Linked DNA regions of Homo sapiens. The protein of the gene in region 1 interacts with the protein of each later gene in a pairwise test. Each region holds a gene or a part of one and is shown in the gene's direction. Other genes may lie near its edges.

The links.
Region 2: the proteins of JPH3 (region 1) and RNF138 interact in binary tests that used the Homo sapiens proteins (3 or more experiments, as listed by UniProt).
Region 3: the proteins of JPH3 (region 1) and PCSK7 interact in binary tests that used the Homo sapiens proteins (3 or more experiments, as listed by UniProt).
Region 4: the proteins of JPH3 (region 1) and PNO1 interact in binary tests that used the Homo sapiens proteins (3 or more experiments, as listed by UniProt).
Region 5: the proteins of JPH3 (region 1) and SMARCB1 interact in binary tests that used the Homo sapiens proteins (3 or more experiments, as listed by UniProt).
Region 6: the proteins of JPH3 (region 1) and CENPV interact in binary tests that used the Homo sapiens proteins (3 or more experiments, as listed by UniProt).
Region 7: the proteins of JPH3 (region 1) and MYBPHL interact in binary tests that used the Homo sapiens proteins (3 or more experiments, as listed by UniProt).

Annotation. Positions count from the first base shown.
Region 1 is NC_000016.10:87,682,508-87,686,007, forward strand, and holds part of JPH3 (junctophilin-3), read left to right. Parts: intron 1-1,634; coding exon 1,635-1,759; intron 1,760-3,500. UniProt on the Homo sapiens protein: Junctophilins contribute to the formation of junctional membrane complexes (JMCs) which link the plasma membrane with the endoplasmic or sarcoplasmic reticulum in excitable cells.
Region 2 is NC_000018.10:32,108,487-32,112,810, forward strand, and holds part of RNF138 (E3 ubiquitin-protein ligase RNF138), read left to right. Parts: intron 1-3,267; coding exon 3,268-3,433; intron 3,434-4,324. UniProt on the Homo sapiens protein: E3 ubiquitin-protein ligase involved in DNA damage response by promoting DNA resection and homologous recombination.
Region 3 is NC_000011.10:117,207,647-117,211,970, reverse strand, and holds part of PCSK7 (proprotein convertase subtilisin/kexin type 7 preproprotein), read left to right. Parts: intron 1-2,917; coding exon 2,918-3,074; intron 3,075-3,906; coding exon 3,907-4,001; intron 4,002-4,235; coding exon of another isoform or gene 4,236-4,289; exon of another isoform or gene 4,290-4,318; intron 4,319-4,324. UniProt on the Homo sapiens protein: Serine endoprotease that processes various proproteins by cleavage at paired basic amino acids, recognizing the RXXX[KR]R consensus motif. Likely functions in the constitutive secretory pathway.
Region 4 is NC_000002.12:68,156,198-68,161,128, forward strand, and holds the start of PNO1 (RNA-binding protein PNO1), read left to right. Parts: upstream 1-1,690; 5' UTR 1,691-1,737; coding exon 1,738-1,944; intron 1,945-2,182; coding exon 2,183-2,332; intron 2,333-4,931. Other genes in the region: DNAAF10 (dynein axonemal assembly factor 10), read right to left, coding at 1,064-1,246. UniProt on the Homo sapiens protein: Part of the small subunit (SSU) processome, first precursor of the small eukaryotic ribosomal subunit.
Region 5 is NC_000022.11:23,824,966-23,829,289, forward strand, and holds part of SMARCB1 (SWI/SNF-related matrix-associated actin-dependent regulator of chromatin subfamily B member 1), read left to right. Parts: intron 1-259; coding exon 260-450; intron 451-4,324.
Region 6 is NC_000017.11:16,346,568-16,350,891, reverse strand, and holds part of CENPV (centromere protein V), read left to right. Parts: intron 1-862; coding exon 863-961; intron 962-2,206; coding exon 2,207-2,276; intron 2,277-4,324. UniProt on the Homo sapiens protein: Required for distribution of pericentromeric heterochromatin in interphase nuclei and for centromere formation and organization, chromosome alignment and cytokinesis.
Region 7 is NC_000001.11:109,291,354-109,294,751, reverse strand, and holds the end of MYBPHL (myosin-binding protein H-like), read left to right. Parts: intron 1-502; coding exon 503-513; 3' UTR 514-546; intron 547-1,746; exon of another isoform or gene 1,747-2,163; 3' UTR 2,164-2,387; downstream 2,388-3,398. UniProt on the Homo sapiens protein: Myosin-binding protein which plays a role in cardiac function. Seems to regulate conduction in the atria and ventricular conduction systems.

The DNA of each region.
Region 1 (3,500 bases):
AGAGAGCACCCTCGCTTCTTCTACCATGTGAGCACCCAGCAGGAAGGTGCTGTCCAGGACCCAGAAAGTGGGTCCTCTGCAGACACCAAATCTGCTGGCACCTTGATCTTGGACTTCCAGCCTCCGGAACTGGGGGAAAGCAATGTCTGCTATTGATGAGCCGCCCAAGCTGCGGTGCTTTGTTGCAGCCCCAACAGGCTAAGTCAGGAACCGTGAACAGGAGACCTCCCAGGGAGTCTGCTCGGAGGGGGGATTTGTCGTGGGGGAATTGGTCATTGTGCCTCAGTTTCCCCATTGTTGGGGAAGTGGTGCCCATGGCCACTGGCAGGCCCCCCCGGGGGCCAGCACACCAGGTAGGAAGAAATGCAAGCCCCAGGCTGCTGAGATGCACAGAGCCCCACATTCTGCCTTCGGGACGTCTGTCTAGTCCCTTGTCTTACAAAGGGTGGGCAGGTCCCCTGCAGGACTCAGCAGAGGGAGAGACACAGTCAGGGAGCGGCCAGAGGGGTGACGTGCCCGGCTGCCCACAGGTACAATGGCTCCTTCGTGTCACACATGGGTGTCGGCGTCATCTTTCGGCTGGGTGAGGGAACTGCCCAGCTGCCCAAGCCCTGGGTTCCCAAGTCAGAGTTGCTGGGATTACTGGGCAGGGAGGTGGTCCCGCAACCCACACCGGGGCAGTGGCAGGAAGCACAGACACACACAGCACAGCGGGCCGGCACCGCCGGGGTGGGTTGTCTGGGCTTGGACTCTTTCTGTGCACATGCTGATGTTTGTTGATAATAAGAACAGAAACATTTTCTTTTTTTTTTTTTGAGATGGAGTCTTGCTCTGTCACCCAGGCTGGAGTGCAATGGCGTGATCTCCGCTCACTGCAACTTCCGCCTCCCAGGTTCAAGCAATTCTCCTTCCTCAGCCTCCTGAGTAGCTGGGATTACAGGCACGTGCCACAACACCCGGCTAATTTTTGTAATTTTTAGTAGAGACGGAGTTTCACCATGTTGTGCAGGCTGGTCTTGAACTCCTGACCTCATGATCTGCCCGCCTCAGCCTCCCAAAGTGCTGGGATTACAGGCGTGAGCCACTGTGCCCAGCCCCTCCCCTTTTTTTTTTCCTTGAGACAGAGTCTTGCTCTATTACCCAAGCTGGAGTGCAGTGACGCGATCTCAGCTCACTGCAACCTCCACCTCCCAGATTCAAGCAATCCTCCTGCCTCAGTGTCCCGAGTAGCTGGGACCACAGATGCGTGCCATCACACCCAGCTAATTTTGTATTTTTGGCAGAGACAGGCTTTTGCCATGTTGCCCAGGCTGGTCGTGAACGCCTGAGCTCAAGCGATCTTCCTGCCTTGGCCTCCCAAAGTGCTGGGATTACAGGCGTGAGCCACCATGCCCTGCCCAGAGGTGTTTTCAAGCATGTCCTGTGCACTGGGCCTGGTTGGTTGATGCTCAGTGATGTTTATTGAATGAATGAATGAATGAACGAACAAGATCCAGAAGTCTGAGGGTAAACATGGGGTGCCAGCATCTTGTCTTAGCCCAGCCCGTTGTTGGGGGGTTGGCAGAGTACCTCAACCCAGACCCCTGTCACCTGTGCCCCCTGCCCCCCCTCACGCTCCTCCCTGTCTCCCCCAGGACCTCCCACTCTCGGGCAAAGGCCGAGGCAGCCCTCACAGCAGCTCAGAAAGCCCAGGAGGAGGCGCGGATCGCCAGGATCACTGCCAAAGAGTTCTCCCCTTCCTTCCAGCACCGGGAAAACGGTGAGTCTCGCCGGGCCTGATACTGGCATCGTGGGGAGGGGGTGCGTGGATGGCTGGGCAGTCCTGGCAGCAGATGTGTCCTCCAGAGCGGGTAGGCTTAGATGGGCTCAGCCCCAGCTGCTCCCCTGCCCGGTGTCTTCCTCTCCCGCCGAAGGTGCTTGTTTGTGCCAAGGCCTGGCCTGGCTCCCCGGGACACAGGACATGTGTCTTGGCAGGTCTCTCCCATTCCCACAGTCCTTGGGGCACCGCGTGTTGCTTGCCGGCTGTCCCTGACGGTGAATTCCCACCTGCCCAGCCTGTGCTGTCTGCTGCCCGCCCTCCCCCAGTGTTGTTCTAGAACCTTCTGGGATGATGGAACTATCTGCTGGGTCCAGCGTGGCAGCCATTAGCTGGGTGTGTCTGCGGTCCTGGCTCTTGACCTGCCTCTGATGTGAACTAACTTACCATTAAACACACCCAGTGGCTGCTGGGTTGGACAGCGTCACAAATGGCAGCTCCCGCTGTGCCCCTCGGAAAGAGCTGGAAGCTGCTGCCTGATTTAGGAACCTCGTCCTCCCTTCGAGGGGGGGATCATGGGTGATACGGCCCAGTGACAGTGGCGGGGGCGTGGAGGGTGTGGGGTGGGTGGCGGAGAGGCCGTGGCCAGCTGCCTCCCATCTCCTACCTCATCTTGGAGGAAGCTTCCTCTGCACCAGGAGGCCCCAGAGAATGGGGTTAGGAGCGCGCCCCCTCAACCCGAGCTCTGACCGGTGAGCGGTATTCGGATGAGGCTCTGCGCGCTGGAGGTCCGCACCTGACACCACAGCCCTGAACTTGCTCGCAACGCCTGCCACTCTGGCCACCAGGACAGGATGAGGAGCCCAGCCTGGGGGCTGCGGGGCTGGGCGCTCCCCTGACTGGAACGCGAGACCACATCATCTCTAGAGGTGACCGTCCGCCACCACTCCAAGACCTTGCCTTCACTGGGCGAGTGCCGGGCCCTGCAGAGCCTGCAGCTGCAGCCTGGAGGTCAGGAGGACGAGCCCCCGCACCCCCACCGCCTTGGGCAGCTTCTATTCCACTGCGTCCCCTCCACTCTCCTGGCCCCTCCAGACACACGCACCCCAAAGTGTCCAAGTGGGAGGGCAATGGGCCACGTGCCCCTGTGGCCATTGGCATCCTCCATGGTCTCGCCCTCAGGCCCTGAGTTTCCTTCTCCCTGGGGCCCCTCCTTGCCTCGCCCACGACCAGCTGCCTGGGCTGGGAGGCGGTGGGGCGCACACTTGGGGGCACACGTGTAGCGTGCACGTGCATGTGGGGAGTGGGTGCAGTGCTGCGGGATGGACGAACGGAACAGGGATGCTGGAGAGGAAGCCAGTGCCGTCGGGGGCACCTGCCAGAACCCTGGCTGGGCCACTCCACGCAGAATGCACGTAGGACGGCATGGGATTCCACGTACCAACCCTGGCCCATGGTCGCCTCAGCTCCAGCCCTGCCTGCGACTCACATTCCACTGCCTGCGGCCTGTTTTGTTTCCTCTCAGAGCCTCAGTTCCATGTGTGAAAGGAAGGGGACCAGACAGGGAACATTGAAGCCTCCATCCTGTGCCAAATCCCCCAAGAGACGCATCCACCGGAAGCTCCCAACGTGACTTATTTGGGAGGAGGGTCTGTGCAGGTGTCATTATGGAACAGACTTTGAGACAAGATCAGCCTGGATTGGGGTGAGTCCTAGATCCACGCGGCGTCCTTAGAAGAGACAG
Region 2 (4,324 bases), on another chromosome or scaffold:
ATAGCTGTAACATTTTCATTCTCAATACATCATATTGTAATTTTCATTTTGTGAATATACCATAATTAGTTATGCATTCTTCTGTTGGCGGACCTATGTATAGTTTTCAGTTTGGGGCTATTATAAATAGTGTGGCTATGAACTTTCTAGCAAATTTTTTCTGATTATATATGTAATTTTTGTTTTGTTTGGTTTTTAAATAGATGCAGGGTCTCACTCTTGCTCAGGTAGAAGGGTAATGGAGTGATCATAGCTCACTGCAGCCTTGACCCCCTGGACTCAAGCAATCCTCCTGCCTTAGTCTCTCAAGTAGCTAGGACTACAGGCATGCACCACCGTGCCCAGCTAATTTTTTATTTTTATTTTTAATTTTTTTACAGGAGCAAAGTCTCACTATGTTGTCCAGGCTGGCCTCAAGTAATCCTCCCGCCTTGGCCTCCCAAAGTGCTGGGATTATAGGCATAAGCCACTGCCCATGGTTTTATGTATATAGGTTTGATGGGTATATACTTCAGAGTGGAATTTATGCGCTCTAATGGATATTGCCACCCAGTTTTCCAAATGGTTGTAAAAGTTTATACTCCCATAGCCTCCAATGTGAGTTTAGGTTGGTTCATATCCTCCCTAACACTTGGTATTTCCCACCGTTTTCATTTTTGTCTTTTTCTTTCTTTTTTTTTTTTTTTAAACAAGGTCTCACTCTGTTGCTCAGGCTGAAGTGCAGTGGCACGATCTCAGCTCACTGCAACCTCTGCCTCACAGGCTCAAGTGATCCTCTCACCTCAGCCTCCTGAGTAGCTGGGACTACAGGCATGTGCCACCATGCCAGGCTAGTAGAGATGGGGTTTCACCATGTTGCCCAGGCTGGTCTTGTGAGCTTAAGCCATTTGCCCCGCTCAGCCTCTCAAAGTGCAGGATTACAGGTGTGAGCCACTGTGCCTGGCCATTGTTTTATTATTACTATTTTTTTAGAGACAGGGTCATGCTGTGTTACCCAGGCGGGCCTTGAACTCATTGGCTCAAGAGACCCTCCCACCTCAGCCTCCCAAGTGGCTAAGACTACAGGTACATGCTGCTGTGCCCAGATTTGGTTACTTTTACTATTTTTAAAACTAGTTTTGCTGGGCACCATGGCTCACGCCTGTAATCCCAACACTTTGGGAGGCTGAGATGGCTGGATCACTTGAACTCAGGAGTTCAAGACTAGCCTGAGCAACTGGCAAAATCCCATCTCTACAAAAAGTACAAAAATTAGCCGTCGCAGTGGTGCATGCCTGTAGTCCCACCTACTGGGTAGGCTGAGGCAGGAAAATTACTTGAGCCCTGGAGGCAGAGGTTGCAGTGAGCCAAGATCGCACCAGTGTACTCCAGCCTGGGCGACAGAGCGAGGCTCTGTCTCAAAAAAATAAAATAAATAAAACTAGTTTTTAGTTTGGCAAGTGAAAACTGGCATCTTGTTTACTTTGCGTTATTTTGGTTTCTGGCTATGGTAAATATTTTTAATTGTTATTGTTTTTTGAGAGACAGTATTGCTCTGTCACCCAGGCTGGAATGCAGTGGCACCTTCATAGCTCACTACAGCTTCAACCTCCTGGGCTCAAGTGATCCTTCGCCTCAGCCTCCTGAGTAGCTGGGACTGGACGTGCATGCTACTATACCCAGCTAATTTTTTTTATTTTTAATTTTTGTAGAGACAGGGTCTTGCTATGTTGCCCAGGCTGGTCTTCAACTCCTTGCCTCAAGCTGTCCTCCTGCCTTGTCCTCCCAAAGCACTGGGATTATAGGCATGAGCCACTACGCCCTGCCTAATGTTTTAGTTTATGGTGTTAATTGGTAATGACTTCTAGTGCTGCTTTAATGATATTAACTACTATTTATTGAGCACTTTCCTGACCATGACAAATAATGTGTTAAGCATTTTATACTTGTTATCTATTTTAATCCTCTGAACAGCCGAATCAGTTGTAGATACTTTTATTATTTCGTGAGTGAGGAAACTGATATTAGAGGGAAAAACTGACTTGTTTAAAAGTGCTGCATAGTTAGGAAACTCAGGTTATGTGATCTGTTACTGCACCATTTCCTCTCAACTTCTGTTAGTATAGAGGAGGAATATTCATATATATTTATAGGAGATTGGATTAAATGTATATGTATTCTAGATCCCAGATATATATGTCTGTAATTTAACTGGTTCTCTTGAAAGCAAAATGATCAAATAAGGTATTTGGTGGGGCTAGAGAAGATAAAAAGATTTTAGTTTGATTCTAATTAGAAAGTTGGTTATAAATGTTTAATCTTTTTTTTTTTTTGAGACGGAGTCTTGCTCTGTCGCCCAGGCTGGAGTGCAGTGGTGCAATCTCGGCTCACTGCAACCTCTGTCTCCTGGGTTCATGCCATTCTCCTGCCTCAGCCTCCCGGGTAGCTGAAACTACAGGCGCCTGTCACCACGCCCGGCTAATTTTTTATATTTTTAGTAGAGACGAGATTTCACCGTGGTAGCCAGAATGGTCTTGATCTCCTGACCACGTGATCCGCCTGCTTCAGCGTCCCAAAGTGCTGGGATTACAGGCGTGAGCCACCGTGCCCGGCAAAGCCGGAAGTATTCTTAAGTATTTCTCAAATTATGTTCCATTGCATACTGTTTGGGAAATTTCCCTACTTCCGGACCAAATAACCAAATATCTGTTAACACGCAGATAACTTTGGGTAACACCTAACTTTGGGTAAAACCTATTAACTTTATCCTAGAACTTCCCAAACCAATTTGTGTGCTCTTTTGTAGTAGACCTGTTTATGTCTTGTGGAACAACATGTCGATATACATCAGTTTGAGACAAAAGCTTATGTTACTCATCCTTTTATTTTGTAAGGGGAGGAAATGGAGATCCAGTGTGCGTTAATTTGTTGGCCTAAGATTACACAGCTACTAAATGGCAGAGCCAGGATCCGGTTTTTCCTTTGTACCATGCTTCCTCTAGTAATATTATTAATATGTAGCATTAATATTTATTCATCATATATTATGTTAAGAAGTTGTAAAGCAGACTTGAGTGTAATTGTTCAAATATTCCCATCTAGTCCAGTTATCAGTCTTACTCTCTGATAAATACATATACAGTTACTAAACTTCTGAGATTTATGTACATATGAGTAGCCTAACTTATTTAATATGAATACATATTTATAATCACTTGTTTGTATTTAATTATAGAGATGAAGAGAGTAATTTTTTTTGTAATTAATGTGTCACAATGTTTGGTTTAGTTTCTGTAGAAAATGTTTCCTGACTGCAATGAGGGAAAGCGGAGCACATTGTCCCCTATGTCGTGGAAATGTGACTAGAAGAGAGAGAGCATGTCCTGAACGGGCCTTAGACCTTGAAAATATAATGAGGAAGTTTTCTGGTAGCTGCAGATGCTGTGCAAAACAGGTAGAGTAAATGTGACATCTCTCTTCTTTGGAAGCCAAGTTTCTACTCTGAAATTCTTATTTGAATTTTCTTGGTTGGTGTTTTTTTTTTTTTTGAAAAGATGAAAGGTATTTAGACTGGGAATTGGATAGAAAAGGCCAAAAAAAGCTGTGGTCATAGATCTTACTAGATTATAAACTTACTGAGAAATGAGACTGAAAAAAAAATCACTGAATTTCATAATACTTAGCGTGGCATTTTTCTAAAAGTAATTTCTCATTGATTACTTGCTAAAGTAACTAAATTAGCAAGCTGGCATTTAGCTCATTTAAACCCCATTCTGGTACAAATTCACCCCTTAAGTTTTTCTCATGGTAGCATCATTATTGCAGCTTTACACATAGAAATGTTACTAGTTTGGGCACATGGATTTATGTAGTTTAAGGAACTCTCTAGCTCCTCACTTTACTTATGTATTTATGTATGTATTTAAGAAATCACAAGGGCCGGGCATGGTGGCTCATGCCTGTAATCCCAGCACTTATGGGAGGCCAAGGTGGGTGGATGACCTGAGGTCAGGAGTTCGAGACCAGCCTGACCAACATGGTGAAACCCCGTCTCTACTAAAAATAAAAAATCAGCCAGGTGTGGTGGCGCATGCCTATAATCCCAGCTACTTGGGAGGCTGAGGCAGAATTGTTTGAACCTGGGCGGCAGAGGTTGCGGTGAGCTGAGATTGCGCCATTGCACTCCAAACTGGGCAACAAGAGCGAAACGCTGTCTAAAAAAAAAGAAGAAGAAAGAAATCACAAAATATTTGGTTAATTTTAAGGAACATGTAGGAAAATCAGGTGTTAACAAATAACCAGCATTAATTCTCTAATCTGGATTTTATTCTATCATTTGGAGAAG
Region 3 (4,324 bases), on another chromosome or scaffold:
GTAGCCTTAACATTAGCTAGGTACCATTCTGAACGCTTTAGGTATATTAACTGTTTAATCCTCGTCTCAAACCTATGAAGTAGGTACTGTTACTGGCCCCATTTTACAGATGAGGAAACAGTTCTCACAGCTAGTAAGTGGCAGAGCTGGGATTAGAACCCAAGCTTAGTGGCTCCAGAGCCCATGCTCTTAACACTGGTAGGTGGCAGGAAGTGAAGAACTGAGAAAGGGTTTATTTGTTTTTGTTTTTCATTTGTAGTAGGAAAGGTGCTAGCAAAAAGGTCTAGCCAAGAAGATGGATAATCAGGCTGAGCCATTGTTTGACTTTTGCCAAGTATTGCTGTGAAAGGACAAGAAAGTGAAGGGAGCTTGAGAATGTAAACACACATGTTGGATGAGCCATGGAATCTCAGCCAGTTAGGAGAAAGGAGCTTGAGGGGTTGTGGGAAAATGAGGGGGTCAAGAAGAGAGTGGGGAAAGTGGAAGGAGAGAGGTTGTTTTCAAAGAAATGGGACATTGGCTTTGAAGAGGTGACAGATGGAATTATAGAAAATGAGGCTGGGTGTGGTGGCTCGTGCCTGTAATCCCAGCACTTTGGGAGGCCAAGGCAGGCAGGTGGATCACCTGAGGTCAGGAGTTCGAGACCAGCCTGGCCAACACGGTGAAACCCCGTCTCTACTAAAACTACAAAAATTAGCTGGGCGTGGTGGCATGCGCCTGTAATCCCAGCTACTTGGGAGGCTGAGGCAGGAGAATTGCTTGAACCCAGGAGGTAGAGGTGGCAGTGAGCCAAGCATCTAGCCGCTGCACTCCAGCCTGGGTGACAGAGCTAGACTCCGTCTCAAACAAACAAACACCCCTGTCCTTGCTCAGTCATCTATAATAGCTCTTAGTTGCTTATTTAAAACAAAAATCTTTAAAGCGCATCCCACCCTAGGTTACCCAGCCCCTACTTTCAGTGCCTCTCTGAGCTACTGTGTCTGTAAAATCAAGGTATTGTACTCTGCCTTGCATATTGGAATAATTTTTTTTTTTGAGACAGGCTCTCACTCTATTGCCCAGGCTAGAGTGCAGAGGCACAGTCATGGTTCACTGCAGCCTCAACCTCCTGGGCTCAAGCCATCCTCCCACCCTCAACCTCCTGAGTAGCTGGGACCACAGGTGCTTACCACTATATCCAGCTAATTTTTTATTTTTTTGTAAAGATGATGTCTCCCAGGCTGAAGTTATCCTCCACCATGCCTGGAGTGAGCCACCATGCCTGGCCTGGAATAAATTAATGGAAGAAAGGGTGCTTTAAAAAGAATTGTATTCGGCCGGGTGCAGTGGCTCACGCCTGTAATCCCAGCACTTTCGGAGGCTGAGGCGGGTGGATCATAAGGTCAAGAGATTGAGACCATCCTGGCCAACATGGTGAAACCCCATCTCTACTAAAAATACAAAAATTAGGTGGCCATGGTGGCGTGCACCTGTAGTCCTAGCTACTTGGGAAGCTGAGGCAGGAGAATCGCTTGAACCCAGAAGGCAGAGGTTGCAGTGAGCCAAGATCATGCCACTGCACTCCAGCCTGGCAACAGAGAGAGACTCTGTCTCAAAAAAAAAAAAAAAAAGAATCGTTCTCATTACAGCCTAATTTCTTAATAGTCCCCAGTTGAGTCTTCCTCTTCAGTAGTTTTTTGTTTTTGTTTTTGTTTTAATAATTGTAGATTTACAGGAGGTTTCAAAGAAATGTACAAGAGAAGTCCCGTGCACCCTTCTCCCAATCTTAATGTTTCACACAATTAAAGTATAATATCAAAACCAAGAAATTGACATTGGTACAATCCATAGAGCTTATTTGGAGTTCACCAGATACACATGCTGTCAATATTTGTGTATGCGCGTGTGTAGCTGTATGCAATTGTATCACATGTAGCCTTGCATAACTACCACCACAACCAAGATCCAGAACAATTCCATTATCACAAGACTCCTTTGTGTTACCCCTTTCTGGCCACACCCATCCCCTCCCCTGTCCCTGGCCCCTGGCACCCATTTATCTGTTATGTATCACTGCAGGTACTTCAATTAACATCACCTAAATGGAATTGTGTGCTACGCATCCTTTTTCTTTTTTTTTTTTTCTTTGAGACAGGGTCTTGTTCTGTTGCCCAGGCTGGAGTGTGGTAGCATGAGCATGGCTCACTGCAATCTCCACCTCCCAGGCTCAAGCGATCCTCCCACCTCACCCTCCCCGGTAGTGGGACCACAGGTGCACACCACCACACCTGGCTATATGCTTCTTTTGAGATTGCTTTTTTCACTCACATAATTTGCTTGAAATTTATCCACCAGCATTTTTTAAAAATTAACTGTGCATCATCTTCAGTGAGATGTGTGCATTTCGTCTTTGTTCATGCCTTTTCCACTGCCTAGAATGCCCTCTACCAACCCTGTCTACCGATCTGTATTCATTTCCTTCAGTGTGTCTCACTGCTGTGTGCCTAAACCCATCTGACTTATTTCTCTTCCCTTATCAATTATGTATATTTCCCATACCATATCATTTTCCACTTGCAGGTAGGAGGCAGGGACCACGCCCATCTTATCTTTATATTCCCAGCATCTAGTACAGTGCCTGAAATGGAGGAGGTACCCAGTAAATAATGTTTTGGATGAATGAATGATTGAAGTTGCTCTGCTGGATTCTTATATTGTGTCTTGGGTATGTGTCGTCTTCCCAACTGCACTCGAAGCTACGTTGTAAACTTGAGAGCAGCAGCTCCATTCCATTTACTAGTATAGGCGAGGTCCCAGTTAGGGTTGCCGTAGATGTTTGTATGTGGCTTCAGTGAGCGTGTGTCTTTGTGTACGTGGGGGTGAAGTGAAGGCGTGTTTGTGGGCTGGTTTCCCAGCTGCCCAGCCTGACTTTCTACAGTCAGCAGGATGGACCTGGAGATGTCAGGGCTGAAGACCCTGGAGCATGTGGCAGTGACAGTCTCCATCACTCACCCACGGCGCGGCAGCTTGGAGCTGAAGCTGTTCTGCCCCAGTGGCATGATGTCCCTCATCGGCGCCCCCCGCAGCATGGACTCGTATGTACACCCGCCCGAGGCCTGAGCAACCTTTTCAGCAAGGGCCTTTCCAGGGAAAAGAAATGGAAGAAGTGGATCCTGGCACTGTCCTAAACTACTGTGGCACTGGCTATCCCTGGCGGCTGGAAGCCTTTCGTCACATACCTTCTTCAAGCGCTAGGCCCTGCACCTCACATACATGTTCTCTAATCCTTCTAAGAACCCCCTAGATTAGACTTTGTAACCTCCTTTTACAAATGAGGAAACTGGCTGGGTGTGGTGGCTCACACCTGTAATCCCAGCACTTTGGGAGGTCAAGGCAGGAGAATCACTTGAACTCAGGAGTTCAAGACCAGCCTGGGCAACAAAGTGAGACCCTGTCTCTACAAAAAATTTAAAGATTAGCTGAGCATGGTGGTACATGCCTGTAGTCCCAGCTACTCAGGAGACTGAGGTGGGAGGATCACTTGAACCCAGGAAGTCAAGGCTGCAGTGAGCTGTGATCATGCCACTGCACTCCAGCTTGGATAACAGAGTGAGACCCTGTCTCCAAAAAAAAAAAGAAAGAAAAAGAAAACAAGTCATGGAGCTAGTAAGTGCCCAAGAGAACAAGAATAAACCTAGATCCGTGGGACTCCAAGCCTGTGCGCGCTCCATGCTTGCTTTTTCCACCACACCACGTTAACACAATTTCCTCCTTCCATGAGACCCCAGGGGAAAGGGGCACCTGAGAAGCCCTCGTGGCACCCTCCCAGGTTGTTTCCACGGCTACTACAGTAAGAAAGTGTTGCTGGGGGAAGGTCAGCTCTCTGGCCCACGCCTTCCACCTGTTTCTGCTGTGTTCTTTCCTCAGGGATCCCAACGGCTTCAATGACTGGACCTTCTCCACTGTGCGATGCTGGGGGGAGAGAGCCCGAGGGACCTACAGGCTTGTCATCAGGGATGTCGGTGAGTCTCGTGCCCTCACACCAGGCCCTACCTTTCCTGCTTGTTATCTGGTCCCTCTGCATCTCAGAGTCCCCACAGAAAGTGTCCCGTGTGCAATATATAGGGTTGCCATTGGACCAAGAGAGTTGATGCCAAGAGTGTGCCCATCCGTGAAATGGGCATTGCTCTCTGCAACTGTTCATTTATACTACCTCTCATATTCCCTGGAGGAGTGACCCATCCATCTTTCCTCAGGATAGCAACAAAAAGTCCTTGTCGAAACCACATTTCAAGTCCTTTTACGTATAACCATCCTTCGGCCAGCCCCGGTAGGCAGGTAAGGG
Region 4 (4,931 bases), on another chromosome or scaffold:
TTTCATGTTTGTCATTCAGGGAAACTTAAAGCGGGATGGGGTCTTACATACTTTCTATTCTAGGCTTAACAGTCCAAATTGTATTCATCCTTTATCTACCAGTTTAATCCCTACCTCCTCCAAGCAGATTCTCTCCATAGGTTTTGATCCCCAGAGTTAACCTACCCTGCACTTGTAGTCTATTACAACCCTGATCTGATAATGACTGATCATTTTTTCAGGTAACAAAATCAACACTTTTTAAAAACTATAAACAGCTATAAAATGCTAGTTACTATCATTATTCTCTAATTCTTTCACTAGTAATCTTCAAAAAAACCTTGCAAACCTAATCTTTCCACACCCTGCTTAAATCCTTTCAGTTGTGTCCGTTTTTTCTTAGAAAAAAGGCATAAATCCTTTGAATGTCCTACAGATCTTGCAATGTCTGGTTCCTGCTTATCCCTCTAGTTTCTTAAGGAGATAAACTTCTTCCCATCACTGAGCTTCTGCATGTGCAGAAGCCCTGGAAACCTTGTCCTTTACTCCTAGTTTGACCTAGTTAGCTTCTGCACATACCAAAATCTGTTTTCATTCATCCCAAATCTGTTTTCACTCTCATTGAACCGTAACCGTGTTCCTTTGTGTGAGACAACTCATCTCGGTTTGTATTTATGTATCGTTGCTTTGATTATTGAACTGAGTATCTCTCCCACTAGAAAATAAACTCCATGAGATGGGGGACATTACCATTCACATCCCTGGGAATACCAGGCACTCAGCTGATGCCTGTCGAATGTGTTAGGTTGCCTCTTCCAACCACACTGCAGGCATCCTGGTGCCCGCTTTGGCTGGACTGCACTGGGGGTGGCAGGACGGTTGGGCGCGGAGGAACTACCCCGCGGATGAGAAGAAAGGTTTTAAATAGGAAACATTCCTCAGTCGGCGGTCAGCTTCTCTGGTCTCGCGCGGCTCAAGCCATGCTTTGGGGGACGCTGGGCGAAGGCTCTGGCAAAGAGGAATGCAGACCCCAGGATCCGCACTCGCCCCCAACGGCAGTCCGGATCCTCGACCCGGCACCCACCTCCCGAAGCAGCTTCAGGTCCCCGTGCTGGATCTCGTACAGCTGAATGACGCCGGTGCCCCGTGCGAAGTTGCCCATGGTCACAAATTTGGCGCTGCAGGGCACCCACTTACAGTCAAACACCGTGTAGTTGAAGCCCTTCTGGATATGGGCGATGATCTGAGGCTTCTCGAAGGCCGACATGGTGCAGCCAATTTCAGCTACGGCAACCGCCACACCCAGAGCCCCCAAAAACGGCAACCTGGAAACCAGACTCCAAACATTGGCAATTTGTCCCTCCCGCTTTCCGTATTCTGCCCCAGATGCCCTGGCATGTTGGCTGTAGTTATCCCCGGATAATGCCAGATGCGCTCCTGCGATCGCACAGAATGTTCCTTCACAACAGCACGAATTTGTTTATCGCCTTTACCCACTGCCTTTCGCACACATACATACTAGAGATTACAAAATACTTGGGCTGGGAGTTGCGCGGCTGGAGTGAGCCCAAGACCATCAGGCATATCTTAGGACAGCCTAACCCCGTTTTCCCCCCCACCGGCCCCAAATCCTGCAGGTCCCCGGCCTGTGACGTTTTAGGAAAGGGGCGGAGCTGCAGGGGTGGTTGGCTGAGGCTGGCTTCTGCGTGGTGCAGCTGCGCACGTGTTTCAGCCGGCAGCGCTTTAAGATTTCCGGGGATGGAATCCGAAATGGAAACGCAGAGCGCCAGGGCAGAGGAGGGCTTTACCCAGGTCACCCGCAAGGGTGGCCGACGGGCGAAGAAACGACAGGCTGAACAGCTGTCCGCAGCAGGAGAGGGCGGGGATGCGGGCCGCATGGACACAGAGGAGGCCAGGCCGGCGAAGAGGCCCGTCTTCCCACCCCTCTGTGGGGACGGGCTCCTGGTATGTGGCTGGGACCCTAGGACAGCAACGAGGCAAGGGCCAGACGCGGATCAAGCCGATGGCCTCTGGAGAATGTTGAAGCTGCGGTGGGGCTGTTCTGCCGTGATGCTCAGAGAGAAGTGATTCTTTGAAGTGTAACTAGTTCAGTTAAAGGAGGCCCTTTGTGGATCAGATGTCATTTTAAACTCCATCACCGTCCCTCCATAGCCTTCTGAGTTGTGTGTTCTTTTATTTACAGAGTGGGAAAGAAGAAACAAGGAAAATTCCAGTCCCAGCTAACAGATACACACCATTGAAAGAAAACTGGATGAAGATATTTACTCCTATTGTGGAACATTTGGGACTTCAGATACGCTTTAACTTGAAATCAAGGAATGTAGAAATCAGGGTAAGGAAAATCTCAATCATTTCCCAATACACCAGGCTTTCTCTCCTACAGAGATGAAAAGGCATGAATAGGCTTTACTTAATGGGACTTTTCTGTTGTATGGTTTTTGTCCAGTTTAAAAATTTACCATATTGAGTTTGAACTTCCCAAATGCCTTAAAAATCTGCATTCGATACAAATATTAATTGAATTTGTAAATTAGTTCTGAGATCACACCAAAATACTGGCTCTTCTTCTGTGTATCTTTTATAATGTTCTATGTCAAATTGAGAAAAGGTCGAGTAAAGAGATTGCCATAAACAGAAGCAGGTAAATAATGAATATAAGCACTTGCTGCTTTACAAGAAGTATATACAGTCAGCGTCGGGAATATGTTCTGGGATATGTTTTGTCAGATGACTTAGTCCTTGTGCGAATATTATAGAGTGTACTTACACAAACCTAGATGGTATGTGTATATTTGTTTATATATTTTTTTCATATGGAAAACCAAATGTCCCAGCACCATTACTGAATATCAGTCATTTCATCTACTTGATCTGCATTGCCGGTATCCAGTGCCATATATCAGGTTTCTGTATATTCTCCATTATACTGTTATGAGACCACCATGGTATGAGCGGTTGGTCACTGATCAAAATGTCATTATGCAGTGCATGACTGTGTTTTAATGGTGCTCTTTTGATTAAAAAATGTATTATTTTGATAAGAAACATGCATATATATGTGTGTGTGTGTGTGTGTGTGTGTATATATATCTTTTTATTTTGCTCTTTCACCCAGGCTGGAGTGAGTGGCATGATCTTGGCTCACTGTTAACAGGTGCCTGCCACCAAACCTGGCTAATTTTTGTATTTTTAGTAGAGACTGGGTTTTAGCATGTTGGCCAGGCTAGTCTCGAACTCCTGACCTCAGGTGATCACATCTCGGCCTCCCAAAGTGCTGGGATTACAGGCGTGAGCTGCCCCACCGAGCCTATGTATATATTTTAAATTCTGTGCTATCAATCCGGGAATTAGACATTTAAATTTACTTTGGGCTTTCTTTTCTGGGTGCCAATTTCATACCAGAATCGATAACCGAAATTAATTATATTTTCCTTTTTAAGGATTCTTTTACCATCATCCGGACTGGTATAGTCTCATCTCTGTTAATGGAATATAATAATGGAACAAAGAAAGGCACTATTCTAAATAGTTGATAAAGTGTAAAATATCATAGAACATGATAGAGTAACTCCTCTTTGTCCCTGTTGCCATTCTCTCATTCAGGCTTTTATGGTTTCCTGCCAAGGAGTGGTTTCGTTGTAGGTTTCCCTTGCTTCATTGTTTGACGTCTCTCCTTTCTCCACTCATCCATCTGCCAGTGCCAGATTAAGTTTCCCAGATCACAATGCTTTTATGACATCCTGGCATCTTCAAAAAACAAAAAAAAATTTTTTTTTTTTTTTTTTTTTTGAGATAGAGTCTTGCTCCGTTGCCCAGGCTGGAGTGCAGTGTCGCAATCTCGGCTCACTGCAAGCTCCGCCTCCTGGATTCATGCCATTCTCCTGCCTCAGCCTCCTGAGTAGCTGGGACTACAGGCACCCACCACCACGCCCGGCTAATTTTTTGTATTTTTTAGTAGAGACAGGGTTTCACCGTGTTAGCCAGGATGGTCTTGATCTCCTGACCTCATGATCTACCCGCCTCTGCCTCCCAAAGTGCTGGGATTACAGGCGTGAGCATCTTCAACATTTCTAAAGGAAAAAGTTTTGGACTTAACTTGCTTTTCAAGTAGGAGACTCAGTCACAAGTTTGTCTCTCACGGATCATAAAGTTTGTTTATGTCCATACTTTTTGGTGGCTTTGGCCTTTGAAAGAGGTCCGCTCCTCCCTACTCCTTTCTCTTTATACTTCAGTTCCAGTATCTTTCCGGGTCTAGCTCAAGTTCTTTCTCTGTTATGGTATGTCCATTTTTCAGTCATATCTTCAGTGCCTAAACTTTTCATGTGCTTTATTGTCCTATTTATTGCAGGATAATCACTTTGGATTCCACTAACATTTGTTGATGCTGCCATATACCAGACACACAGTGGTATTACACCATGCTCTACATCATTTAGTCTTCAGGATATTCCCATCTTAAAGATGTGAGGAAACTTGGCCACAGTCATCAGTCTAATAAGGGAAATTTTCTATTATACTAGTAGGGAACACTCAGGATCTTCTACTCTGACCTCCTCATTTTACTGATGAGAAAACTCAAGACCTAAAGTATCTATGGGACTTGTCTAAGGTCACATATAGGATTGGAACTAGGGTCTAGTTTTAAATGGGAAAGCTCTGGGGACTCTCCCATTGCACAAGCCCATATGGTTTTACATTTGTTGAATACGTGGTCTCTTCAACTAGACTGTGAATGTGCATGGGACAGTGGAAATAACAGTTTTGAAATCAGACCTGTGTTTAAATCTTACCTTTTTTGCTTTTTAGTACTTTAGTTTCCTCACATACGAAGGTAGTCATATCACTTAACATTCAAAGTTGTTGTGAAGGTTAGAGTTATGGTGTGTAAAGCATGTTATTTATAGTACGTGTTATTTACAGTGGTAGGCTTT
Region 5 (4,324 bases), on another chromosome or scaffold:
CTCAGGTGCCCCCGGGGTCACTTCAGGGCCTCCCGAGGGTGACTGTGCTGGGCCCTGAGCCAGAGCCCCTCATGGCAGACAGGGTTGTGGGGTCAGCCTTGTTTTGGGGATGGGGAACTGGAAGGACAAGGACCACCTGCAGTTCTCAGCTGGTGGACCCTGGTGGGCAGGGCCCACCCCAGGCCTGGCAGGGCCCCGCTCCTCGCGGCCTCCCTGGGCTGCAAAAGCTCTAACTTGTGTCCTTTGGTTGTTGCCTCAGCTGAACATCCATGTGGGAAACATTTCCCTGGTGGACCAGTTTGAGTGGGACATGTCAGAGAAGGAGAACTCACCAGAGAAGTTTGCCCTGAAGCTGTGCTCGGAGCTGGGGTTGGGCGGGGAGTTTGTCACCACCATCGCATACAGCATCCGGGGACAGCTGAGCTGGCATCAGAAGACCTACGCCTTCAGGTAGGATCATGCATGAGTCTCTCCCTCCCTCATCTCCCTGCAAAACTGTTTTGAGAAAGACTTCTCTGTGTGAGCGGTGATACCTTTGAGGCTTTCTCACGCTTCGCAGCACAATCTGGCTGGGGTCTGTGTGTTTGCTCCGTCCTCCTCCTGCCCTATGTATCTCTCCAGGGCTCCGCTGTGCCAGGTAGGGTTAGAAGCACCTAACACAATAGCTGGCAAAGACTTGGAGTTCTGTCAGGGTGAACCTCAAGTCCTTGCCTCCACGGAGCCCTGGCCTGCCCCCACCATCCACCATTCAGTTGTCCTGCCCCACACCCTCTCTCTCTGCTCTTGCCCAGACTGTTATTTTGGTCAGGGTGACCCCTGCCCAGGGTTCTTCATCTGTTGAACTTGAATTATGTCTTAAACACAAAGGCCCGCCCAGCTTTTGAGAGTCAGGGGTCCCTAGCAGCTCCTTCTTACTCTAGTATCTCTGCCTTTGGTCAGTCAGAGAGCATTTGATGAGTACCATGCTGGGCTGGACCCCATCCTGGCTGCCCTGGAAGATAGAGACAGGTCACCTTGATCCCTGCCTGTAGCATTTGGGCTGGCTGAGATGGTGGAAGTGTGAACAGAATATTCCAGTCCAGTGTCCTCTGTGGTAGGGATGGGGATGGACCCGGGAGAGGCCCTCCTGTTCCTGGCAGGAGGTGGGACTCAGAGTTAAAAGTGAGGTCAAGGCCCAGTGCGATGGCTCACACCTGCAGTCCTAGCACTTCGCGGAGCTGAGGTGGATCACCAGAACCCAGTAGTTCAAGACCAGCCTGGGAAAAACATGGTGAGACCCCACCTCTACAAAAAAAAAAAAATAGAAAAAATGAGCCGGGCATGTTGGTACATGCCTGTAGTTTCAGCTACTCAGGAAGCTGAGGTGGGAGGATCGCCTGAGCTCAAGAGGTGGAGGCTGCAGTGAGCCAAGATCACACCACTGCACTCCAGCCTGGGTGACAGAGCGAGACCCTGTCTCCAAAAAAAAAAAAAAAAATAGCGAGGTTGAACTCTCCCGGCTCAGCAGGACTCTAGGACTGGGAAGCCCCGTGGTTCCTCACCCTGTCCTCTGTGTTGGGATGGGGTGGGGGTGCAGCAAGCATCCCTACATCAAAACAGGATGTTCAGATTTAGTCTGCTCATCAGACTATCATCATCCACATCTGCAGTCATCACTCAGGGATGACAGCTTAAAATGCTACATGAGGAGCAAATAGGAAGGTCTGTTTTGCAAAGCCATGACAATTAATGGAGCTCGTTAGGTTTGTGTCTAACTTGTTTTCCCAGACATCCCAAGAGACAGCTTTCTATGACTTCCCATAAATCTGAGCAAGGAAGAAGGAATGAGAGCCACCCACGGGGCTCAAGGGCCCGGGCCTGGGAAACAGCTGAGTCCCTGCCTGAGCGCCATGGTGCTGAGATCCTGTGACCTGCCCCCCAGCAGCCCTGCCAGTCACATGGTTCTGCTTCACAGACAGGGCAGCCCAGAGAGGAGGCTGGGGGGCTGGTGTCTGATGCCTCCCTGTTCCCTCGGGGTGTTGCCTGGGAGTGCAGCTGTAGCGTGCATTCACCCTGCACAGAGCCAAGCCCTATGGCCGGAGAGCCAGTCAAGGGTGGCCTCCCTCCACCAGAGTTGACTCTGAGGCCCCGGGAGGCAGTCATGTTGCGCGCATCAACACTGAGCACCTCCTCCCGCAGAGGCTGATCCAGTCAGAACCCTCGTCTTGGGCTCACAGGTGCAGGTGGTAGGCTGGCTGCCCCCAGCATCCAGCCCCTACGGTGTTGACCTTCACCTAGTCCTGCAGCCGCTGCCAGTGCCCACAGTCCAGGGTCAGGAACTGAAGTCCCCGGGGCCTCTTGACAGGTCCTTGCAACATCCCTTCTTTCAGCCACCATGGCACCATCCCTCCTGCTCTGACCCGAAGGTGACCTGAGCCTAAATTCCTTTCCAAGTTCCGGGCCCTCTGCAGTTTGCAGAGTGGCTCCAGAGCAGACCCCCTGGGGAGTCCCTGGTGGTGGCAGGTCAGGATTTAGAGGCAGAGGCGGGCCCCTTCTTTATCTCATCGACCACTTAGTGCATTCCAGTTGCAGGGCCTGGGGGCATCACAGACCCCCTGCCCCCTGCTCTCTCTTATGCTGAGAATGCAGGTTTCAAATCTTTGGGGTTAAAGGCAAAGGCCATCCCGCTGGGACCAAGGTGAGCACACGTCCCTATCACAGCAGCCAGATGGAGAGGCGGCCTGCCTGGGGAACTGGGAAGTGTCCTGAGTGGGCTTTTAGCATCAGGAGGGCTGCGTGTGTCTTCCCAGTCCCCACACTGGAAGACAGCTGCAAGGATAGGACAGGGCCTTAGGGTTGGGCTGTCATCCCTGACTCCAACTCGCGTTCCCCCCACTGTACCACCCCACCCCATGGGATCTTAGGAGGGACTTCGTTTAACTCTGTCCCCAGGGAGACCAGTGTCAGTCCTGCCTGGCCCTGCCTGGGGAAAGGAGGCTGGGCCACTGAGTCCCCAGGTCCAGGGGCCAGTCAGCCCACAGAGAGCTAGACCAGGAGTCCTGGCCTGGTCTCTGCCACACAGAAAGCTTGGCAACTGCTGTGTCACATGACTTTTTGTTTTGTTTTGAGATGGGGTCTCGCTCTGTCGCCCAGGCTGGAGTGCAGTGGCGTGATCTCGGCTCACTGCAAGCTCTGCCTCCTGGGTTCACGCCATTCTCCTGCCTCAGGCTCCTGAGTAGATGGGACTACAGGTGCCCGCCACCACGCCCAGCTAATTTTTGTGTTTTTAGTAGAGACGGGGTTTCACCGTATTAGCTAGGATGGTCTGGATCTCCTGACCTTGTGATCCACCCATCTCGGCCTCCCAAAGTGCTGGGATTACAGGCGTGAGCCACCGCGCTCGGCCACATGACTTCTTAAGAAGGGTTTTCAGGCTAGGCATGGTGGCTCACGCCTGTAATCCCAGCACTTTGGGAGGCCGAGGTGGGCGGATCACCTGAGGTCAGGAGTTAGAGACAGGCCAACATGGCAAAACCCCGTCTCTACTAGAAGTAGAAAAATTAGCCAGGTGTGGTGGTGGGCACCCGTAATCCCAGCTACTCGGGAGGCTGAGGCAGGAGAATTGCTTGAACCCGTGAGGCGGAGATTGCAGTGAGCTGAGATTGCACCATTGTGCTCCAGCCCGACAGAGCTAGACTCCATCTCAAAAAAAAGGGTTTTCAGCTCTGGACCTAGGTCACTCCATAATGGAAGCACTCGCTGATTCCCCAAGAGCCAGTCCCTCCATCTCTCCCAGCCAGAGCTCAGTGCCTGACTTCCATACCCTCCTCGGCAGTGGGGACATTGATTGGATCCATGGTACAGTGGGGCAAGCTGCTGGCCACAGGACATGTGTGTGCAAGGCCACTATGCCCACACCTCAGGGGAACCAGGGCAGAGAACAGCCTGTTCCCTTTGGCAGTGGGACAGACAGGAGACAAGCATGAAGGGGAAACAGGGGCATGTGACAAACTGGTCAGAAGCCCTAGGCTCCTAGAGGACAGACTGGGACCAGAGTGACACAGGCGTCCCAGAGCCAGTGGAGTGGGATGAAGGGCCAGCGAAAGGAGGGAGACAGGGCTCAAGGGGAAGGAGGCTGGGCTAGGCAGAGCCTCTGAGGAGAGCTGATCCTGCAAAGTTACTGGCACCTCCCCTGGGCCAGCCCTGTGTTCCTGGCCAGGGACGGGAGGAGACAGTGCCCTGTCTGGCAGAGGAAACAGATTCATGTGCATGACTATCAGTGTGCCATGGCCACAGAAAGCACCGGAGGCTGTGGGCATGAGGAAGGGCAGTTGGGGGCATAGAA
Region 6 (4,324 bases), on another chromosome or scaffold:
GAATACTGGAAAGAAATAGAGCAAAAATATAAGAGCCTTTATTAAGTTTCTCAAAAGGCTCTTCTGGACCTCTGGACTTGATTGAGTACACAGTCTTATTTTTCATAGCAGCCTGTACCTCCTTTATCACAATCATAATTAATTATTATTTGAGTAAATTGTTAAGGTCGGTAAGGGTAGCAATCGTGTCTGCTGTATCTTGTTTAGTGTTCTCTCCTTCGTGCCTAGCTCATAAAAATATTTAGTATTTGAGGCCCGGAGCAGTGGCTCACGCCTGTAATCCCAGCACTTTGGGAGTCCCCGTGGGTGGATCACAAGGTCAGGAGTTCAAGACCAGCTTGGCCAAGATGGTGAAGCCCTATCTCTACTAAAAATACAAAATTAGCAGGGCGCGGTGGCAGGCGCCTGTAATCCCAGCTACTTGGGAGGCTAAGGCTGGAGAATTGCTTCAACCCAGGTGGCAGAGGTTGCAGTGAGCCAAGATCGTGCCACCGTACTCCAGCCTGGGCAATAGACTGAGACTCCATCTCAAAAAAAAAAAAAAAAATTTAGTATTTGACATATAAATAAAAATGTCTGGTGGTGGGTTAGGATCCCTCACATTTTCGAAATGTTTGGAATGTTTTATTTTGCAACTTAATATAATTTAAGAAATTGGTGAAAAGAGAGCTCATGGACAAAGAAGGTGCTGAAACCATTCTTCACTTAGGAAATTGACAGTGCCTCCTTAAAAGCAGAAATGCATCTGGTTGTCATGTAGAAAAGACTTTTGTCTAATCTTCTGTCTTTCTTTCAGCAACAAAAAGAGAGCAGGAGGCAGCTATTCAGAAATTATTATCTTTCTGATTTTTGTTTCATTTAGTGAATACCAGGGCCTGGTGAAGCACACAGGAGGCTGCCACTGTGGAGCAGTTCGTTTTGAAGTTTGGGCCTCAGCAGACTTGCATATATTTGACTGCAAGTGAGTATTTTTTTTTCCCTAAATTGGCTTAAAAGAATTTCAGAGTTAAAATGCAATATTTCAAAATAATCTGGGGAGTTGGGGTACAGAGGAAACATTGGCCTTGGGCTGGTAACTGTTGAAGTCAGGTGATGGGGACAGAAAGGTTCATTGTTCTATTTTTGTTCCTTTTATATGGCTCATCACAGAGCTTCAACAGCATGGCCCAGGTGACACAGAGCAGGGTCCTCAGGGCTTGTGGCTTGTGGCAGCATCACCCTCAGACTGACACTGCTGAGGAGCCGGGGGCGGTTAGCTGCAGGTGTGCCTGGCTGGGTACTGAGTGGAAAGCCTTGGGCAGAATCTTCATAGAAGTCTAGAGTTGGGGAGAGTTGGAGGGTATGTTAGTAAAGGGTGTATACACCTGGAGGCTCCCCAGGCCCTCCACTCTCGCTCTGCTCTTCGGTTGAGGCAGATGGCACTGCTGGCTGTGGAGGGCCTGATTTGTACCACCTTCCCCGGCGTTATGATGGAGCAGGGACGACAGGCTCTGGCTTTGGGACCCAAAGTTGGCATGCAGCTAATTATTTAACAGCATCCAGTCCTTTTTGCCCCTAGGTACCGGAATTATATATGAATAATAAGCACATACGATGGAATTACTCAAATGGAGAACTGACCAGGCTACTAACAATAGAGTCCAGATTGGAAAAGAAGCACTGTGGAATAACTTGTGAGAGGATTCTGTGCTAAATTAGAACTTTTTCAAAGGTGGCCTGAAAAGAGGGGACTTCAGTTTAATTCCAGAGATGGTAATTCTGGGGACGTGTTTTACTTGGAGCTGGACTTCTTGTGACGTGGTGATGAAGAAAGAGGGAAACCTAAACTTCCTTGTCCATTTTTGGTGTGGATGTCTCAGAGACATCAGGTTGTAGCAGTGTCTGAAATTTGTTTCCTAAGTGTCTCTGAAGTCCAGCGCTTCTCTTCACTGTAAAGAACTGAGGGGTGGGCAGTACAGACCTGTCTGTTGGTCCTGTGTTCTGAGCATTGCAGAACCTCGACTGCTGACTTGGGACCCCCCTGGGCTCTGCTGTACCTGCAAACCAGAGGCACTGCTATCCAGGCCTTTGCCCCAGCTCCTCGGCCCTGGATGGTGCTGAAAGGGGCATCATCTGTGGGGTCGGCTGGCTCTCATGGCTGGGCCGCTCAGGCATAGAGGATGCAGGTGGCTGCTCACAATCTGGAATTTGCTCTGTCTTTCTGTAGTTGCAGCATTTGCAAGAAGAAGCAGAATAGACACTTCATTGTTCCAGCTTCTCGCTTCAAGCTCCTGAAGGTCAGTGCTTAAGAGCAGGGTCAAGGAGTGCAGAACCCATTGGTGAGATTTACAGGACCCCCCACCCAACTGTTAGCATGCCGTCTGTAGCATGGGAGGGGCCTGGAGCATAGCAGGGCCTCTCACGGGCTTTGGTTTCAGGTTGACATTTAAAAGGTGGGCCCGGCACAGTGGCTCACGCCTGTAATCCCAGCACTTTGGGAGGCCAAGATGGATGGATCACCTGAAGTCAGGAGTTGAGGACCAGCCTGGCCAACATGGTGAAACCCTATCTCTACTAAAAATACAAAAATTAGCTGGGCGTTGTAGTGCATGCCTGTAATCCCAGCTACTTGGGAGGCCAAGGCAGGAGAATCACTTGAACCTGGGAGGTGGAGGTTGCAGTGAGCCGAGATCACACCATTGCACTCCAGCCTGGGTGACGAGTGAAACTCCATCTCAAAAAAAATGAAAATAAAAAATAAAAGGTTGTGTTATTTTTTACCTTTATTTTTTGGAGGCCTATTTGGTATTGTGGAAACATTTTCAAATTCAGAGAATCAAAAAACAATAAAATCACCCAAATCCTGTCAACTAAAGGTAACCACTGTTAATATTTTGGTGTCTGTCTTTGTGTATTATTTTCTACTCTGAGAAATACATCTAAACCTATTGTCTTATGTTTATTAAGTAGAATTTTACCATTCTTTTTGTTGATAAACTGCTTATCTCATTTCCCAATGAAAAGCTTATATACTTATTTGTAACTTTAATTTTATTATTTTGGGGAATTTTTTGTACTTGGTACAAAATTTGAAAGGTAGAAGAAAATGTGTATATACACAGTGAAAAATCTTTCCCTACTGTCCCCATGCCCCAGTCTCCCTCTTCCCCACAGCCGATTTCCTGGTCTACTTACCCCATCACTGTCTCTGCATCATTGCAGTTGAGTCCCGTTTTTTTCTGATTATCAACAACACTGGTGAACCTCCTTGGTATACATTTTTGACAATTTAGAAATTTCTTCTTTAGGATCAATTCTCTTAGAAATAAGTTCTCTGGCTATTCTGGGCACACTTCCTACACCCTGCTCTACAAGGAGCAGTTAAAAAAAAAGAGAGAAAGAAAATCTCCAGGTTAAAGAATACAGATTTTTTAAAAAAGACTTTTAGCACATTATGGGTAATGTGGGGTTGGGCGGGGCTTTAATTCCATCCAGATAATGCTGGATGGCTTGGGACCACTTGGCAGTCCTTCGCTGCTTTTCTGTGCTGCAGTGGCTATGGAGTGAGCAAGGCTCCTCAGGGAGCTATTTCTATAGGAAGCACAATTCTGGACGGTATGGCTGGGGAAGCGTAAAGAGGGTTAACAAGGATAAGAAACCTCCACCCCTTCCCCTTCAGCTGTCTGATTTCTCTCCCTAAAGGTAAGCCACTGTTTCTTGGATCCCTCTTCAAAGATACATATGCATATAAAAGCACATACAGGCCAGGCACAGTAGCTCATGCCTGTAGTCCCAGCACTTTGGAAGGCCAAGGCAGGCAGATCACTTGAGCCCAGGAGTTCAACACCAGCCTGGACAACATAGCGAGACCCCCATGTCTACAAAAAATAAAAAATCGGCTAGGTGTGGTGTTGCATGCCTATAGTCCCAGGTACTCGGGAGGCTGAGGTGGGAGAATCACTTGATCCTGGGAGGTCAAGGCTGCAGTAAGCTGTCGTCATACCACTGCACTCCAGCCTGGATAACAGAGTGAGATCTTGTCTCAAAAAAACAAAACAAAACAAAACAAAAACACCACACATACCAGTATATAGCCTTAAAAAAAAAAAAAGAAATGGTAGCATACCACGTACGTTGTTTTATACCTTGCTTAACTTTTTTTTTGAGACAGTCTCACTCTGTTGCCCAGGCTGGAGTGCAGTGGTGTGATCTCGGCTCACTGTAACCTCCGCCTCCCAGGCTCAAGTGATTCTCCTGCTTCAGCCTCCTGAGTAGCTGGGACTACAGGTGCCCGCCACCACATCTGGCTAATTTTTACATTTTTAGTACAGACAGGGTTTCACCA
Region 7 (3,398 bases), on another chromosome or scaffold:
ATGCTGTGCAATCTTCTGACTCAGCCTAGGAAAGCTGCAACTGTTTGTCAGGCTTTATTTCACTTCCCCTCCGGTTTATTTATAGGTAATATTGCATATCCTCTCTACTTCCTTAAAGTATTTAATCACTTATCTATACCTGTCACCTTGTTCAGATCTCTATCATTGTGTTTAACATACTGTTTTATAATTATCTATTTATAGATATGTTTCCCTATTAAATTATAAGCATTTTGAGGGTAGGGACATTGTCTTATTTGCCTTTGTCCCCCCAGTGTCTAGCCCAGTTTCTGACACACAGTAGGCACTCTAAATGTTTGTTGCATGGATCAAGAATGAATGAGCCCTTACATGTCCTGTTCTTCTCTATGTATAGACTACCTAATTAGCACCATTGACTCCCCAAGAACCTGAAATAGAATATTCCTTTCTAATGCTCTGAAAGAAAGTTTCTCAGAGATTTCTGAGATGTTAACACTGAGAAATGTCCGAATTATTACAGTTCCTAATTGAGGACACCTAAGAAGGCATGGTACTCTGACAAAGGTAAGTAAAGAGAGGCAAGATGTCTCACTGGATTACTTCCTGTTTATGGCTAGTGTTGTTGAGTCAGGGACAGAGGTGCATTCCTGAGCCTTTCAGTCATGTATCCACTGGTGGCCACTTTTGTTGTAACCATTTTTTTTTTGAAATGATGTCTTACTCTGTTGCCCAGGCTAGAGTGCAGTGGCGCCATCTTGGCTCACTGCAACCTCTGCCTCCTGGGTTCAAGCAATTCTTGTGCCTCAACCTCTCGAGTAGCTGGGATGACAGGCGCCCGCCACCATGCCCGGCTAATTTTTCTACTTTTAGTAGTGATGGAGTTTCACCATGTTGGCCAGGCTGGTCTCGAACTCCTGACCTCAAGTGATTCACTCACCTCGGCCTCCCAAAGTGCTGGGATTACAGGTGAGAGCCGACATGCCCAGCTGTTGTAACCATTTTTATATTTATTTATTTATTTATTTATTTTGAGACAGAGTCTCGCTTTGTCGCCCAGGCCGGAGTGCAGTGGCGCTATCTCGGCTCACTGCAAGCTCTGCCTGCCGGGTTCATGCCATTCTCCTGCCTCAGCCTCCAGAGTAGCTGGGACTACAGGCACCCACCACCACGCCCGGCAATTTTTTTTTTTTAGTAGAGACGGGGTTTCACTGTGTTAACCAGGATGGTCTCGATCTCCTGACCTCATGATCCACCCGCCTTGGCCTCCCAAAGTGCTGGGATTACAGGCGTGAGCCACTGCGCCCAGCCTGTTGTAACCATTTTTAAAAGCGATACTGTCATCCCTGTGGAGAGAATTTATAGTAGATGCAGTCTGCTTTTGTCATATCCTCTCTATGTCTGCACTCCTCAAGTCGATGGTAGGAATTAAACCTAATGAATGGTCCTCTGAAGAAGAGTGACAGCATCCACCTAATCATAAGGAGATTCTGTGGGAGGGAGCTGAGCAGGTATTGTAGGAAAAGATGTCAAGGGAACAATTCAGAGTGCAGGAACCCACAAGAGTCACAGCACCTTGTGCCTGTGGGGTGTGTAAGGACAGGGGAGGCTGCTCCTGCTGACTGAGTAAACGCCTCAGGATCATGAGCATGGTAAAAAAAAATGGATTAATATATTTGTTTTTTACTTTGAAGCTTATGGATTCCTTCCCTTCCAAGAGAAGAAAATCCTCTTTCTCATTTATGTCAATTATAATTTAACCTTTAGGTGTGTGGTCCCAAGCAGCACATTATTGGCAAAAGACAGCTCAGCTCATCATTTAGAACCGGACAGCTCTTTTAGATTTTCCGTCATTCACATTAGCTATGTTGTGAACAAAGTGATGCATAAGGCGAAAAAGAAGCTTGAGACAGAACTAAAGAGAACAAGTTCCCAGTGTCCTCTCTGACTTGTAGCTGCTGGCTGATGGAAATTGGAAATGAATTTGATCCCATAAGACATTTATTTAAGGCTCTCACTGGTATGTAGCAAATGAAAGCCTAAAGGGGTGCGTTACAAGTACAGACTTCTCAGGAAAGCGCTCTCCGACAGTCGGCTTGCAGAGACAACTCTCCCTCCCTCACCTCCCTCTCTGTGTTAATGATACTTGTGTTCGTGTTAGTTGCCCCTTTCCCTCTCTCACAGCCAGTGCCCAGCAATGAAGTGAATTCATGGCACAGGAGCCAGGGACCGTGACAACGGTGCCCTCAGCAGCCTGGTGTCCTCTGGCCATTTGCTGTCATGGCTACAAAGTGCTCCCTCTTTTCAGTGCCTCCAGGAAGCCCGCCAGTGGTGAGACTGTGTCCTCAAGGAGCTTCGGCACCATGTCTGGTTTGGATTCATCTAAATAAATATGTGGTTCCCCAGTGCCTACGTGTCCCTGTATTTGAGACTTTCTATGAAACATTTGGAAAGTTGCCATCCTTTAGCCAGGCTGTAAGGAACCACAGGGCCTTAAGACTCCCCTTTATCTTCCCACAACCACATTCGCTTCCACAGAGGTTTCTAACACTGTCCTTTTCCCTAGACATCTACGACACAACTGAATTCAACCCTCCACAGTACTAAGTGCTGGAAAGAGATGCCGAAGATGACTTGCTCTCTGCCTCTATGGGCTTTCCAATTTAAGTTGGGATAACAGGACGCACATCCACCACAAAGAGGCAAACAGCAGAACACAAACATGCACATAGCTAATTATAGACAGAGCCCCAAGACCTGAGGGCTGGAATGATACTCAAGAAATTGGAGGGCTGGGCAATGTGGCTCATGCCTGTAATCCCAGAACTTTGGGAAGCCGAGGCGGATGGATCACTTGAGGTCAGGAGTTCGAGACAAGCCCAGCCAACATGGTGAAACCCCATCTCTATAAAAATACAAAAATTAGGCTGGGCATAGCGTCTCACGCCCGTAATCCTAGCACTTTGTGAGGCCGAGGCAGGCGGATCACTTGAGGTTAAGAGTTCAAAACCAGCCTGGCCAACACAGTAAAACCCTGTCTCTACTAAAAATACAACAAAATTGGACAGGTATGGTGGCGAGCGCCTCTAATCCCAGCTACTCAGGATGCTGAGGGAGGAGAATCGCTTGAATCCAGGAGGCGGAGCTTGCAGTGAGCCGAGATCATGCCACTGCACTCCAGCCTGGGTGACAGAGCAAGACTCCATCTCAAAAAAAAAAAAAAAAAAAAAAAAGCAAAGTATTTGGAGCAGAGTCTCATTAAACCCAGGAAAAGAATAAAGGTGAGGTTCCCTTGATTATCTTTGTTTTCATTCTGATGACAAATAAGATATTGAAGGTGTTCTGTGATAGAATCTGCAGAAGATGATAACAGTTCCTCCTATCTTTGTATGAGCACGGTGCTCCTCTCATCAAGAGTT